2 separate regions of the Homo sapiens genome follow, and region 1 is linked to region 2. Evidence: fine-mapped expression QTL. A gene starts in region 2. The other region holds a variant in brackets. All regions are shown on one strand. Distances are from middle to middle.

Evidence for each region. PIP is the estimated chance that this variant, and not a neighbour inherited with it, causes the effect.
Region 1: its variant is fine-mapped to the expression of RAB24 in skeletal muscle (FUSION, PIP 0.95).

What each region holds. Positions count from the first base shown.
Region 1 is chr5:177,155,462-177,163,461 of GRCh38, forward strand. The region is part of intron 2 of NSD1 (nuclear receptor binding SET domain protein 1); the gene reads left to right. Among named protein-coding and RNA genes, the nearest start is that of NSD1, 26 kb to the left of the region's middle. RefSeq lists a silencer at 4,196-4,325. The variant T/A (reference allele first, on the strand shown) is at 4,436.
Region 2 is chr5:177,300,433-177,308,432 of GRCh38, forward strand. RAB24 (RAB24, member RAS oncogene family) reads right to left here and starts at 3,287. Exons shown (of 8, transcript NM_001031677.4): 1 at 2,740-3,287; 2 at 2,577-2,645; 3 at 2,320-2,398; 4 at 2,145-2,212; 5 at 1,965-2,064; 6 at 1,696-1,746; 7 at 1,493-1,555; 8 at 766-1,375. The coding sequence starts at 2,856. The coding sequence ends at 1,311. It overlaps PRELID1 (PRELI domain containing 1), which reads left to right and starts at 3,367. Exons shown (of 5, transcript NM_013237.4): 1 at 3,367-3,645; 2 at 4,193-4,418; 3 at 5,439-5,552; 4 at 5,666-5,744; 5 at 5,990-6,517. The coding sequence starts at 3,554. The coding sequence ends at 6,138. It overlaps MXD3 (MAX dimerization protein 3), which reads right to left. Exons shown (of 6, transcript NM_031300.4): 5 at 7,349-7,532; 6 at 6,778-7,271. The coding sequence ends at 7,156. RefSeq lists enhancers at 1-47, 978-2,177, 1,351-1,410, 3,342-4,219, 3,858-3,957 and 5 more and silencers at 1-148, 3,178-3,247, 3,298-3,377, 3,488-3,627.

The DNA of each region.
Region 1 (8,000 bases), 140 kb before region 2:
CCATGTCGGCTAAGCTGGTCTCGAACTCCTGACCTCAGGTGATCTGCCTGCCTTGGCCTCCCAATGTGCTGGGATTATAGGCATAAGCCACCGCACTGGCTTTTTTTTTTTTTTTTTTTTTAAACCTGGATGGTTTTATTTTGCATGAATGTATAGATATTTCCTGTTCATACATTCTGAAAGTGAACAACTGTATATATGCAATTTATTTTTATTCTTATTTATTTATTTGTTTATTTTTTGAGACCAGAGTCTCACTCTGTCGCCCAGGCTAGAGTGCAATGACACAATCTCGGTTCACTGCAACCTCTGCCTCCTGGGTTAAGCAATTCTTCTGCCTCAGCTTCCCCAGTAGCTGGGATTACAGGTGTCCGCTAATTTTTGTATTTTTACAAAATACACCCAGGTAATTTTTTGTAATTTTGGTAGAGACAGGTTTCACCATGTCGGCCAGGCTGGTCTCGAACTCCTGACCTCAGGTGATATGCCCGACTCAGCCTCCCAAAGTGCTGGGATTACAGGTGTGAGCCACTGCGTCTGGCCTGCATGGGGATTCTTAATGAAGATTAATTATTGTAGTTGAGGGGGAAAAGGAATAATAAATATTTATTGGACCCTAAATACCTTCGAATATGGAATACCCTAGGTATTCTAGGGCATTTAGGGACCAATAAATATTTATTCCTCCGTACTCTTCCCTCGCTCTTTTCAGATTTTTTTTTTTTTTTTTTTTTTTTTGAGATGGAGTCTTGCTCTGTCTCCAGGCTGGAGTGCAGTGGCGCGATCTTGGCTCACTGCAACCTCTGCCTCCTGGGTTGAAGTGATTCTCTTGCCTCAGCCTCCTGAGTGGCTGGGACTACAGGTGCATACCACTATGCCCAGCTAATTTTTGTATTTTTTGTAGAGACAGGCTTTCACCATGTTGGCCAGGATGGTCTCGTTCTTTAGACCTCGTGATCTGTCTTCCTCAGCCTCCCAAAGTGTTGGAATTACAGGCGTAAGCCTCCGCCGGGCCTTTTTTAGATTTTTAAGAGAATTTTTGTTAAAGCATGAACTTAAAAAATCAGACTTGGCTTGGAGCGGTGGCTCATGGCCTCTAGTCCCAGGACTTTGGGTGGCTGAGGCAAGTGGATTGCTTGAGCCCAGGAGTTCAAGACCTGCCTTGGCAATAATATCAAGACCCCCTCTTCATGAAAAACAATCAAGCTAATACTTGATACTATTTTACATAAGAATTTTTTATAGTATGTCATGTTTTAATGTATATTGGTTATATAGTTGCAAATTTAAAGGCATGGTGGTGGCTCATACCTGTAATCCCAGCACTTTGGGAGGCTGGGGCGGGCAGATCTTCTGAGGTCAGGAGTTCAAGACCAGCCTGGCCAACATGGTGGAACCCCGTCTTAGGCTGAGGCAGGAGAATAGCTTGTGCCCAGGAGGCAGAGGTTGCTTTGAGCTGAGATCGCACCACGGCATTCCAGCCTGGAGGACAGAGCGAGACTCTGTCTCTAAATAAATAAATAAATAAATAAATGTATACTAACTGCATTAGCAAGACTCCGTCTCTAAATAAATAAGTGAATAAATAAATGTATACTAATTGCATTTTAAAAATCAAAGTATAGGCCGGGTACGGTGGCTCACAACTGTAATCCTAGCACTTTTGGAGGCTGAGGTGGATGGATCACCTGAGGTCAGGAGTTTGAGACCAGCCTGACCAACATGGTGAAACTTTGTCTCTACTAAAAATACAAAATTAGCTGGTGTGGTGGCGCATGGCTGTAATCCCAGCTACTCGGGAGGCTGAGGTAGGAGAATTGCTTGAACCTGAGAGGTGGAGGTTGTGGTGAGCGGAGATCGTGCTGTTGCACTCCAGCCTGGGCAACAAGAGCGAAACTTCGTCTCCAAGAAAAAAAAAATATATAATTCACATAAGATAAAATTCACCCTCTTTGGCCAGGCGCAGTGGCTCATGCCTGTAATCCCAGCACTTTGGGAGGTAGAGGTGGGCAGATCACTTGAGGTCAGGGAGTTTGAGACCAGCCTGGCCAACATGGTGAAACCCCATCTCTACTAAAAATACAAAAATTAGCCCGGTGTGGTGGCATACACCTGTAATCCACCTACTCAGGACGCTGAGTCTGCACTCAGTCCCTGGGCTACAGGGTGAAACTGTATCTCAAAAATAAAGAATAAAATGCAGCTACTTAAAGGGTGTAGAGTTGAACAACTGTTACCACTGTCTAATTCCAGAACCTTTCATCACCCCAAAAGAAAACCCATTCCCAGCAGTCATTTCCCATTAAGTCTCCTCTAGCCCCTCACAACCACTAATCTAATTCATGTTTCTATGTATTTGCCTATTCTAGGCGTTTCATACAAATACAGTCATATAATTTGTGGCCTTTCGTGTCTGACTTGTTTAACTTAGCATAATGTTTTAAGGCCCATTTATGTTGTTGTATGTATGCATACTTCATTCCATTTTACTGCTGAATATTGCTTTGTACTGATGCCACTTTTTGTTTGTCTTTTCATCACTTGACGGACATTTTGTTTCTTCCACTTTGTGGCTGTTACAGGCAGTGCTACTGTGAAAATTTGTATTAAAGTTTTAGCGTGAATATATGTTTTCAGTTCTCTTGGGAAAATACCTAGAAGTGGTATTGTCGGATCATAGGGTCATTCTATGTTTAGCATTTTGAGGAACAGCCAGACTGTTTTACATAGTGGTTGCACCGTTTTACAGTCCTACTTTAGCCTATATGGGTTCTAATTTCTTTCTTTCTTTCTTTCTTTCTTTCTTTCTTTCTTTCTTTCTTTCTTTCTTTCTTTCTTTCTTTTCTTTCTTTTCTTTCTTTTCTTTCTTTTCTTTCTTTCTTTCTTTCTTTTTTTAGAACAGAGTCTCCCTCTGTAGCCCAGGCTGGAGTGCAGTGGCATGGTCTTGGCTCACTGCAGCCTCCGCCTCTCGGGTTCAAGCAATTCTCTGCCTCAGCCTCCCAAGTAGCTTGGACTACAGGCGCCCGCCACCACGCCTGGCTAATGTTTGTATTTTTGGTAGTGACAGGGTTTCACCACATTGGCCAGGTTGGTCTTGAACTCCTGACCTCAGGTGATTCACCCACCTCGGCCTCCCAAAGTGCCGAGATTACAGGCATGAGCCACTGCATCCGGGCGTGGGTTCTAAATTCTTAATATTCTCATCAACATTTATTGCTGTCTTTTTAATTTTAGCCTGTAATCCCAGCTACTAGGGCGACTGAGGTGGTAGCATCGCTTGAGCCCAGGAAGCTGAGGCTGCAGTGAGCCAAGATTGCACCACTGCACTCCAGGCTAGGTGATGAAGTGAGACTTCATCTCAAAAAAAAAAAAAAGGAAGTAATGGCAAAAACTGGAATTATTTTGCACCAACTTAAATATTTAGATCTTTAATACCTTTGGAAAGTTTTTTATATATAGTTTGTGTGTGTGTGTGTGTATATATACACACATATATATATACACACACATATATACACACATATATATGAATGATTTTATATATATATATATATATATATATATGAATGATATATATATATATATATGAATGAATGAATGAGATGGAGTCTCACTCTGTCACCCAGGCAGGAGTGCAGTGGTGCCATTTTGGCTTATGGCAGCCTCCGCCTCCGGGGTTCAAGTGATTCTTGTACCTCAGCCTCCCGAGTTGCTGGGATTACAGGCACTCGCCACCATGCCCGGATTTTTTGTCTTAATTCATGAAGGATGAATTAAGTCTGCAGTTGTTCTTTTTCCCTTTTTCTTTCCAGTTTTTTTTTTTGTTTGTTTGTTTGTTTTTGAGACACAGTCTCACTCGGTTGTCCAGGCTGGAGTGCGGTGGCAGTATCTTGGCTCCCTGTAACCCATCTCCCTGGTTCAAGCGATTCCGGTGCCTCAGCTTCCCAAGTAGCTAGGATTACAGGTGTGTGACACCACACCTGGTTAATTTTTGTATTTTTAGTAGAGACGAGGTTTCACCGCATTGGTTAGGTTGGTCTCAAAACTCCTGACCTCAGGTGAACCGCCCACCTAAGCCTTCCAAAGTGCTGAGATTACATGCATGAGCCACCAAGTCTGGCCTAAGTCTGAATTTTTTTTTTTTTTTTTTTGAGACGGAGTTTCGCTCTTGTTGCCCAGGCTGGAGTGCAATGGTGCGATCTTGGCTAACCGCAACCTCCGCCTCCCACGTTCAAGCAATTCTGCCTCAGCCTCCCGAGTAGCTGGGATTGCAGGCATATACCACCACGCCTGGCTAATTTTGTATTTTTGTTAGAGATGGGGTTTCTCCGTGTTGAGACTGGTCTCGAACTCCTGACCTCAGGTGATCCGCCTGCCTCGGCCTCCCAAAGTGCTGGGATTACAGGTGTGAACCACTGCACCCGGCCGAATATAT[T/A]TTTTTTTTTTTAAATGGAGTCTCGCTCTGTGGCCCAGGCTGGAATGCAGCGGTGTGATCTTAGCTCACTGCAACCTCTGCCTCCCTGGCTCAAGCGATTCTCCTGCTTCAGCCTCCTGAGTACCTGGGACCACAGGTGTGCACCACCATGCCTGAATAATTTTTTTGTGTTTTTGTAGAGATGGAGTTTCACCATGTTGGCCAGGCTGATCTTGAACTACTGACCTCAGGTGATGTGCCTGCCTCCGCCTTCCCAAGTGCTGGGATTACAGGCATGAGCTACTGTACCCGGCTAAGTGTACAGTGTTCTTGTGATGTCTTTGTCTGGTGTTGGTATCAGGGTAATACTGTCTTCAAGATTACCCTTGAATGAGCTTTACTTCATTTTTTAATGTGTTTTTTTTTCTTTTCTTTTGTTTTTTGTTTTTGAGACAGAGTTTCACTCTGTCGCACAGGCTGGAATCCACACTCTAGGCTCGCTGCAGCCTCCACCTCCCAGGTTCAAGAGATTCTCCTGTGTCAGCCTCTTGAGTAGCTGGGGTTACAGGCACGTGCCACGACGCCCGGCTGATTTTTTTGTATTTTTAGTAGTGACGGGCTTTCACCATGTTGGCCAGGCTGGTCTCGAACTCCTGACATCAAGTGACCTGCCTTCCTCAGCCTCCCAAAGTGTTGGGATTACAGGAGTGAGCCACTGTGCCCCGCCTGCAATTACTTCTTAAGTTCTCAATTAAAAGAGAGTTTATCAAGGACTTTTTTTGGTAATTTTGCATTTTGAAAATTGCTAACATTAACTGGGACAGCCCTTTTATTTATTTATTTGTCACTCAGTTGTTTTTTTGAGTTGCCTACTATGTCCCAGGCACTGGTAAGATAGGAGTATCATTGTACCTGAGGCAGGGCAACATGTGCTTGCTTGAGAGGAGCATGATCTAGGATTATAAGGACTGCAACCTCCCCTTCCCAGGTTGAAGCAGTTCTCATGCCTCAGCCTCCCAAGTAGCTGGGACTACAGCCATGAGCCACCACGCCCAGCTAATTTTTGTGTTTTTAGTAGAGATGAGGTTTCCCCATGTTGGCCAGGCTAGTCTCAACTTCTGGACCTCAGGTGATCTGCCCACTTCAGCCTCCCAAAGTGCTGAAATTACAGGAGTAATTTTATTCTCCCAAAGCTGCTGCTTTGGGAGAATAAAAAGTTGAGTATGGGCCAGGCATGGGGGCTGATGCCTGTGATCGCAGCACTTTAGGAGACTGAGGTGGGAGTCTAGCTTGAGCCCAGTAGTTTGAGACAAGCCTGGGGAACATAGGGAGATCCGGCCTCTACAAAAAAAATAAATTAGCTGGGTGGAGTGGCATGTGCCTGTGGTCCCAGCTACTTGGGTGGTTGAGGTGGGAAGATATCTGAGCTCAGGAGTTCCAGGCTGCAGTGAGCTCTGATTATGCACTCCAGCCTGGGTGACAGAGTGAGATGCTGTCTCAAAAAAAAAAATTCAGTGTGGCGTGATTAGGCTGGGAGGGTGGGGCAGGAAGGGATGACATTGGAGGGGTAGGCAAGGTGTAGATAGACCTTTCCCTATATTCTCCTATTTTTAAAAAATTTTTTTCTAAATAGAGATAGGGTCTTACTATTTTGCCCAGGCTGGGTCTCAAACTCCTGGGCTCAAGTAATCCTTCCATCTAGGCCTCTATTTTTTGTGCAAACGATTGAAATTATATTTTTTTTACCTGAATTTTTCCTGTGAACATTGGGTTATTTATAAACCTGTTTTCTGTTTCTTTCTTTCTTTTTTTTTTTTTTTGTTTTTGTTTTTTGAGATAGAGTCCAGCCTGGAGTGCTGTGGCATGATCTTGGCACACTTGCAACCTCTGCCTCCTGGGTTCAGGTGATTCTCCTCCTCTAGCCTCCTCCACGCCTGGCTAATATTTGTATTTTTAGTAGAGATGGGGTTTCACCATGTTGGCCGGGCTGTTCTTGAACTCCTGGTTTCAACAGATCCACCTGCCTCAGCCTGCCAAAGTGCTGAGATTACAGGTGTGAGCCACTGTTCTAGGCACTTGTTTCTGTTTCTTAATTTTGGCTGCTACTCAGTGGGAAAAAGCACAGATTGAATCTAATTGAGGCCGGGCGCTGTGGCTCACTCCTGTAATTTCAGCACTTTGGGAGGCTGAGGTGGGCAGATCACCTGAGATCCAGAGTTCGAGACTAGCCTGGCCAACATGGGGAAACCTCATCTCTACTAAAAACACAAAAATTAGTTGGGCGTGGTGGCTCATGGCTGTAGTCCCAGCTACTCGGGAGGCTGAGGCATGAGAATTGCTTCAACCCGGGAGGTGGAGGTTGCAGTGAGCTGAGATCAGGACACTGCCCTCCAGGTTGGGCAAGAGAGTGAGACTCGGTCTTAAAAAAAAAAAAAAATCTAGTTGAAAAATGTCATCGGGTCTTTCCAAATTTTTACTAGGAATTTGTTAAAATTAACCAGGCTGGAAGTCATTATAGTTTGTTTGTTTGTTTGTTTGAGATGGGGGTCTCACTCTGTCACGCAGGCTGGAGTTCAGTGGTAGGATCTCGGCTCACTGCAACCTCTGCATCCCAGATTCAAGCGATCCTCTCACCTCTGCCTCATGAGTAGTTGGAACCACAGGCATGTGTCACCATGCTTTTGTAGAGACAGGGTTTCTTTCGCCCTATTGGCTAGGCTGGTCTCAAACTTGTGAGCTCAAGCGATCCGCCCACCTTGGCCTCCCAAAGTGCTGGGATTACAGGCATGAGTTACCTTGCCTTGCCCATTATAGCTTTTTTGAGGCTGGGTCTTACTCTCTGTCATGCAGGCTGGACTGCAGTGGTGTGATCTAAGCTCACTGCCTCCTGGGCTCAAGCAGTCCTCCCACCTCAGCCTCCTGAGTAGCTGGCACAGGCGCTACCTCACCCATCTAATTTTTTATTTTTTTTAGAGATGGGGTTTTGCCATGTTTGCCCAGGCTGGTCTAGAATTCATGAGCTCAAGTGATCTACCTGCCTCGGCCTCCCAATGTGCTGGGATTACAGACATGAGCCACTATGTTCAGCCATACCTGGCTAATTTTTAAAAAATGTTTTCAAGAGACAGGGTCTCCCTGTGTTGCCCAGGTTGGTCTCAAGTTCCTGGGATTACTGCTGGCCTTCAAAAGTAAATGTGAAATAATTAGTTAATTTCTCCCTCAGTTGACAAATAATGCCAAAAGTGATAAAGATTAATGAAATGTCTCTTTTTTTTTTTTTTTTTTGAGACGGAGTCTCGTTCTGTTGCCAAGTCTGGAATGCAGTGGCACGATCTCGGCTCACTGCAACGTCCACCTACTGGGTTCAAGTGATTCTCCTGCCTCAGCCTCCCGAGTAGCTGGGACTACAGGCACGCATCACCATGCCCGGCTAATTTTTGTATTTTTAGTAGAGACGGGGTTTCACTATGTTGGCCAGGCTGGTCTTGAACTCCTGACCTCATGATCCACCCACCTTGGCCTCCCAAAGTGCTGGGATTACAGGCATGAGCCACCGCGCCCAGCCATGAAATTTCTTACGTAGAAA
Region 2 (8,000 bases):
TCCCTCTGTTGGGAGTGGCTGGTTTCAGTTTCAGTCTCCCTCCACAGGAAGCCCCCATCACTCATGAAGGAAGGGCAGTTTGAGGAATTGGTTTTTAAAAAGGAAGTGGAACCAAAGCACTCTCTGAGTGTGAGTCTGACCATGTTGGCTAAGTTGTACATTTTTCCAAGGCAGGTGTTGGCCACTGCAGAGGACTCAGCCCAGGCCTAAATAAAGGCAGGAAAGCAGAGGCAAAGGATAAAACTAAGGGAAAGCCCCTGGCCTGGGGCCACACCCTCCATACCAGAAAGGGCTGCAATAAATTTCCTTCTGGTTGAGCAGCAAGTGTCAGCCCTGTTTACAGTTAACACCTGATTCCTCAGAAATATCTGGATCTTCTTTGGGGAAAACTTGGGAGTTTGCTTCCCTTTGTGACCTAGTCCTGAACTTCCTGCCCTTTCAGCAAAAAGTGCTTGGGAAGATTGGGAAAAACATTTAGTACTAGAGTTACTCTTCACTTTCTTCACAATCCTTGGGCTGCATAGTAGTCACCTTATTTTACAGATGAGAAACTCAAGATGAGGATTTAAGTCCCTTTTCTAAATTAGCAGCTGAATTGGAACCAAATCTGGATCCATTAGACCTTTCTGGCTTACAGAACTTAGGACTTTCCTACCATTAAACCACATTGTAGGATGTCACTGGGAAGCTCAGGACCTGAGTCACAGGTCTGACATAGGGGCCCAAACATGACAGATGCAGTAGAGCTAGTCAGACCAACCTGTCTCAGGTAGGAATGCTTGACCCTTTTATTTCGAAGCAACTCATGCACTCTTTTCAGCACTCAGAAGGAACTGTGAGCTTTTATACTACTACAGCCCCAGTATCTCAGCGGTAACCATGGGGAAAAAAGTCTTGTTTTCCAAAGGAAAATGAGAGTTGGGAGGAGCCTTAATATAAGCAGTGAGGCCAGCCGGGTGGCCCCAGGAAGAACTAGGTGTCTTGACACCTAATCCACACAGCAGGGAAAGGGGCTGGGTGTGATGCACAGTGCACTGATTTTATTTACAGATCAAAAGCCACTTAAATAATCTGCAGACACAAGTGCTGTCCAGGGCAGAAGCCTGGGGTCCAAATCAGCCTTATCCCTCCTCATGCCCACAGTCAGCCCAATGCTGTCTCCGTTCCATGGGCCAGCACAGGCAGGCGCCACTCTGCTGACATGAGGACCTGGGGTAGCTCAGACATTTGACTACCCAAGCCCAGAAAGGAGCTGGGTCCAGCCCTTACGGGGAATTCCTTTAATTCCCCCAGGCCAGGTGAGTGCTGACTCAGTGATGACAACAGCTGTAGAAGTAGGGGTTTGGCTTCTGGCCCAGATCCACGCCCTTGTCCTCTGTCAAAAAGAGAGGTGGCAGCTCAGCACCATTCTGTTGGGATCAGGTAACTCAGGAAAGGGGCTAGATGCTGTGGGCCTAGAGTAAGTCTCCATAAAGGCTGGGGAAGCACACACCTGTCATCACCTGGAAGGCAGCCACACTGACGTAATCCTCTGCCACTTTCTGGAAGAGCTCGTCTGGCAGGAAAAATGATGATCAGCGAGGGCCCAATGCCAGTAGCCCTGGGATCTCCCAGTGACCCAGCCCTCTGTGCCCTATTCAGCTTCCTCTGGTGCCCCTGCATGTTCCTGCTGTGAGGCTCCAGCACAGCACTCACCCACACTCTGGCCTGTCTTGCTGGATGTTTCAAAGAGCTGAGCTTTGATATCTGTAAAGAGAAGTGACTAAAGCCTCATACCTGAGAATTAGATAAACAGACAAAAGGGAGGGCTAGCAGTTCAGGGAGTCTCCTGGACCCCACAGTTCAAGGAGGCCAGGAAGACCTCCTAGAGCACCTTGCCCTGGCAGCCAAGGCAGTCCCTATTTTCTTTGATCCACCCAGACAGCCACACACCCCCACCCCCCAAAGGGCTGAGGAGCAGCTACTGTCTGCATAGTCCTGGACGTCGTGGAAGTCCACACGTCGACGCCTCCGGTCTTCTTCCAGCAGGTCACTCTTGGTGCCACATAAGTAGATTTGGCAGCCCTGAGGCAGAAGACAAGGGTCACCTCCACAGGCCAACAAAACCCCAGCCCCTAGTGTTCTAGTGAGGTCTGTTCACCTACCTCCTCTAGGCTGCGCAGTTCCTTCACCCAGAACTTTGCTCGCTCAAAGCTGCTGCTGTCTGTGAGGTCTTGGTGTGCGGCATGCAGGAGACAACCAAGTGGTCAAGGGCTGTTCTCTGGCTAGCCTGGCACCCATCTTTTCTTGTGAGACAGCCCAAACCCCCCCCCCCCTTACCATAGCAGACGATGGCAGCCTTGGCACCCCGATAGTAGATTCTACTCATGGCCTCATAGCGCTCAGAGCCTGCTGTGTCCTAAAGAGTAAGGCCTGAGTCAAACTTAAGGCCACGTTCTCCAGACCCCGCTATTTTCCAGATAAGGAAACGGGTCTATGAGAAATGGGTCTGTGAGGCCACAAATCAACCAGTAATAGGCAGGACCTACACCTCCTCAGGAATGAGTCTCCCAAGAATAGATGGCCGGGGGACTTACCCAAATACCTAATGTCACAGTCCGGTCTCCGACCGACATCACCTTGGCCACGAAGGCGGCCCCGATGGTCTGCAACGAGAGGGAAGAGATCGGGGCCATAGGTGCAGATTACCGGCCCCCCACTCCCCCGCCCACCGTGCCTGGCCCCTCCGGATGCACTCACGTTCTGATAAGGCCCCACCAGAAAGCGGTCGTGCACGTAGCGCTCCACCAGGCTAGTCTTGCCCACGTACTCCTTGCCCAGCATCACCACCTTGACGTCCACGCGCTGCCCGCTCATGCTCCCGGGGCCGCTTCAGCCACGTCAGGGTCCTGAGCGGGGACGGGAGGCAAACCCCGATCTCCGCTCGGCCCAGGCAGCGCCCAAGCCTCAGACCCCGACCCCAAACGGCGCCAACCTACGACTCCAGACAGCGCGTCGGGCTCGAGCTCTGGCCGTGGCCTTGCACTTCGGCAGCGCCCCGTGTGCCCCCGCTGTTCGGCCCCGGGCGCCGATTATCCTTCGAAGACCCCAAGCCTCGGGGCGGCCTGGGAGCGCGCGGGACAGCGTCCTCAACAGCGCAGCACGCCGCCGTGCAGCTCGCTACTCCGTCATTCGCTCGCCTGCCCGGCTTAAGCTCCGTTCTGGCTGGGAATCCCAACCGAACCTGGGGTCTCCCGCAACCCGGCTCCTACCCGCAGCGCCGCGACTCCCGCGGGAGGGGGCTAGAGGGCGAGGGGGCGGGGCCGCAAGGTCACGTGGCGCGGGCGCCGGAAGCGGTGGCTACTGTGTGGCTGCGCCGGAAGTGGCGCGCGGCCGGACAACTCATGGCGGCGGCGGCGGCGGCGGCAGCTGCTTGGGCGCGGTGCGGTGGTGACTGAGCTACGAGCCTGGCGGCGGGTGTGCGCCGAGCCCCGGCCCGGCCCGGCCCTCGCGTGCCTCCCAGGCTCCGCACCCCTGATGCTGCGCGGGTGCTGAGCCCGCTTCGGCCGGGACGATGGTGAAGTATTTCCTGGGCCAGAGCGTGCTCCGGAGTTCCTGGGACCAAGTGTTCGCCGCCTTCTGGCAGCGGTACCCGAATCCCTATAGGTACGTGGTATTTGGAAGAGCAAAACCGCGCCATCTCGCTATCTGGAGATCGAATTATGGGTAACCCCCAAGTACTGGGACCAGGAAGGACTCGATATCGAATCCTAGGTAGACCTTATCGGGGAAGCGGCCAGGCCAGGCCTGCAAGGTCCTGAAGGGAGGTTGGGCCTGGGTGGTGGTTTACTTGAGACCTTAGTGTAAGATTCTTTTCTCAGTGTGGTGAGACAAGAAGAGGCGGCAGTATGGGAGTTGGGAGGGATCTTGGAGTTGGAAATCCTATTTCTCTGCCCGTGGCGCTTTCCTGGGGTGCAATAAATCATGAGGTCCATTCCTGCTAGAAGGCAGGAATCCAGGTCAGTCAGATGGCGGGAGTGGGAATTTGCCCTGGGATGGGCCCTTAACTCTGGTTTGAACCATAGCACATACCACCCTGCAAGGTTACGGGAAGGCGTGGCCTCTCTAGGCCCGGAGCCTCCAAATGGGAATCCCCTCGGGCAGTCTCTTAGGGGCAAGCTTCTGAGGGTCACCTTCACCCTGACACCTGCAGCAAACATGTCTTGACGGAAGACATAGTACACCGGGAGGTGACCCCTGACCAGAAACTGCTGTCCCGGCGACTCCTGACCAAGACCAACAGGATGCCACGCTGGGCCGAGCGACTATTTCCTGCCAATGTTGCTCACTCGGTGTACGTCCTGGAGGACTCTATTGTGGACCCACAGAATCAGACCATGACTACCTTCACCTGGAACATCAACCACGCCCGGCTGATGGTGAGACACCTCCTGTTGTGATTCTGCACCTCCCCCTCTCCCCTCCCCCCGAGATAGAGAGCTCCTCAGATACATGTGGCTAGAGAGCCATAAGGCAGCTTTTGTGGCCGGAGGCAGGTCTGGGTTACTGAGGGTTGACAGCTGTAGAGTATGACCTCAGGTTTTCTTCTTTTCAGCTGGCCATCCTCTCTGGACCTGTCCTTTGACTCATTCATACAGTGGGGGAGGGGTACCTATCTTACGGAGTTGTCCTAAGTTCTAAATGCAAAGCGCTCCCATCTGGCATCTATGGCACAGATATATGTTGGACTCACAGGAGTGATGCTGAGTGGCGGAGGCAGTGCTTTTCTTTTTTTTTTTTCTGTTTTTTGTTTTTTTCTGGTGACAAGAGTCTCACCCAGGTTGGAGTGTAGTGACATGATCTCACCTCACTGCCACTGCCACCTCCTGGGTTTAAGCAATTCTCGTGCCTCAGCCTTCTGAAGAGGTGGATTTCTAAGCACACACCACCACGCCTGGCTAATTTTTGTATTTTTAGTACAGACAAGGTTTTACCATGTTGGCCAGGCTGGTCTCGAACTCCTAACCTCAAGTGATCCGCCCGCCTCGGCCTCCCAAAGTGCTAAGATTACAGGCGTGAGCCACCGCGCCGGGCAAATGTTTTTATTTGGACTGTCAGGAAGCTCCAGAGCTGCAGCTGGTGGAAGGCGGCTAAAACACTGCATGCGTCTAGATGCACAAAACAAAATCCAGGAGCAGGATGGGCTGGAAGGCCCTTTGTTGATCTCAAGAGAGAGACCTTTTGCCTTCTAGTTTAAGAGTCAGAAGAGAGGTTTTCGAGAGCAAAACGACCTTATTTATGGCTTCTTGTTCTGTCAGTGCCACTTGGAGGTGCAGTCAGGGGAAGGAATGGATTTTCATTGTATTGCTTCGCCTCATGAAAAGTGACAGGGAGTCAGATTTATGTGCAAGTTGGCAAAATGAAAGACTGTTCCACGATTGTGGTTGGCCTCTGCATAGGTGGTGGAGGAACGATGTGTTTACTGTGTGAACTCTGACAACAGTGGCTGGACTGAAATCCGCCGGGAAGCCTGGGTCTCCTCTAGCTTATTTGGTGTCTCCAGAGCTGTCCAGGTGAGCAGTGTTGTTGGGGCTGCTGGGGCTCTGGGACCCAGTGCTTTCGGTGTTGGGGCTGGGCTGGGGTCAGTGGGCAACTCAGTATCCTTCCCATTCTCATCTCATGCCAGGAATTTGGTCTTGCCCGATTCAAAAGCAACGTGACCAAGACTATGAAGGGTTTTGAATATATCTTGGCTAAGCTGCAAGGTGAGTTTCTGGGTATGTGGATATTCCTCATAGGGAGAGGCTCATTCAGCCTAGCGGGCGTGGAGTCTGGGTTAGTCATTGCCCTGCTCTGAGCTGGGACTCCTTGTCTGTACTGGGGGTGGGAGGAGGGTGAATACCACCTTTTTAGTGGAGCCTGGCCCAGAGGAGATTGGTGTCATGGGGGAGGGAAATTAGGTTGGTCTTTCAGGCATCTTCTAAAGGCAGCCACCTGCCGTTCGCGACAGGCGAGGCCCCTTCCAAAACACTTGTTGAGACAGCCAAGGAAGCCAAGGAGAAGGCAAAGGAGACGGCACTGGCAGCTACAGAGAAGGCCAAGGACCTCGCCAGCAAGGCGGCCACCAAGAAGCAGCAGCAGCAGCAACAGTTTGTGTAGCCAGTCTACCACCACCACAGCACCCCAGACAGCTAGGCTTAGCCTCTCTGCCCTCCCTTCATTGTACTTTATCATTAAAAATCAACTTCCAGCCCTGTCTGCTGTCTACGTGGTGGGTTGTGGGGATGCAGTTTGGCATCTGCAGTACACCAAGCACATGATTCATGTCTGAGCCAGGTCTGCTTATTCTCCCATTGGGCAGCTGAGGACCGAGGCACAGAGGTGCGGTGACTTGCCCGGGGCTCCAGGTAGCCTGCAGGTTAACTGGCGGTAAGTGCTAGACTGTAAGCCCGACAAGGGCAGGGCTTTTGGTTTTGTTCTCTGATGTGTCTCAGTATCTAGCACATAATAGACACTCAATAAATACTTGTTGAATTCAGTTGGCCCCAGCTCTGGAGTCGGAAGGCTCTGGTTTGAATCTTGGCTTCACTGTTTTTGGACCTCAGGCGAGTCACGTCACTCAGCCTCATTTCTACCATCCGTGAAGTGGAGACAGAACAGCCTCAAGTTGTGAGAATTAAGTGCACTGCCTGGCACGGCCAACAGTGTCAGTGATGGGAACTGATATTATTTCCTCTTCCAGTGGGTCTGTGGTTGGGAGTTCCCCCGTTTTCATTAGGCAAGACTATGGACGGGAAGTTATGAAAGAGGCTTTTAATGAAAATACTGTACAGTTTATGTGAGGCAAAGGCAGGGGGCCTTGTCCAGGAAGGGAAGAGGCCCAAGAGGCTTCCTGTCCCCTTGGGGGCAGCAGAGCCAAATGCTTGGGCTCGGGCCCAAGCTGCCTGCCCTGCAGGGGTCCAGGGAGGTCCTGATGAGTCCTGCCCCTTCCCTTCCAGAGGGCCTGCCTGGCAGCCAGCAGCAGGGTGTTTGGGGAGCACCTGTTCCCACACAAGGGTCCTTTTAGTCCATTCCAACAGGTGACTCCGAGCAGCCCTGAAGGCTTGGGGAGGGCTCCTGCCTGGCAAGTGGGCCTGGCACGAGTAGAGGGCAGAGGCCCGCCCTGGGTGAGGAACATCATAGCCAGGCGCCGCCGCCGTGCGAGTAGCTGTGCTCCTGGCCGGCGACGAAGCCCCGCAGCAGCTCGGCCTCACCCCCAAACACCAGGCTCTCCACATCCACCTCCAGCTCCTCTGCGCGGGGAGGGGTCCGGTCAGAAGACCTGGCTCGCCCCGAGGGCCACACAACCCCTCAGCCTCGGGGCACTCACCTTGGTCTGAGTCTGAGCGCTCAGAGGAGAGGCCTGAGGAGTCCAGACTGTCCGCCCGCAGCCGCTCCCGCTCGGCCGCCCCTGCCAGCCCCCGGAGCTGCTCCAGCTGCCGCTGCAGGCTCTGCTGCTTGCTGCGCAGCCTCTCCTTGAGCTGTCGGGCCCGCTGCTCCTGATCCTCCAGCTTCTGCGGATCCCAAAGGAGCAAGGGGCTGGGGTCAGCGGCGTGGGGGCTTGGGCTGCACCCCAGCACCACTCAGTACCGGGCCACGGCCACAGGGCCAATGCCCACTCCGGGCAGGTGGCGACTAAATCCAGGCCCCAGAGGGTTGCACCCACATCCTCCAGAAAGCCAGCCCCTTTCCGGCCATGCACACGTCCTGTCAGGGTGCTGCCTAGATTGGGGGTGGGGGGGCACCACAATCTCAAAGGCATTTGGGGCCTAGTCAAGGATAAAGGACTGGAGTGCTGTGGCGTCCAGGGGTGGGAACTGGGAGCAGGGTGCACTGCTGCGTGTACACTCTGGCTCAGGAGCCAGGCATGTGCTGTCATGGGAAACAGGCCCGGTGTTACCAGGTCTCCCCGTTTCTTTTGTTTTTTGTTTTTTTTTTTTGAAACAGAGTCTCGCTCTGTCGCCCAGGCTGGAGTGCAGTGG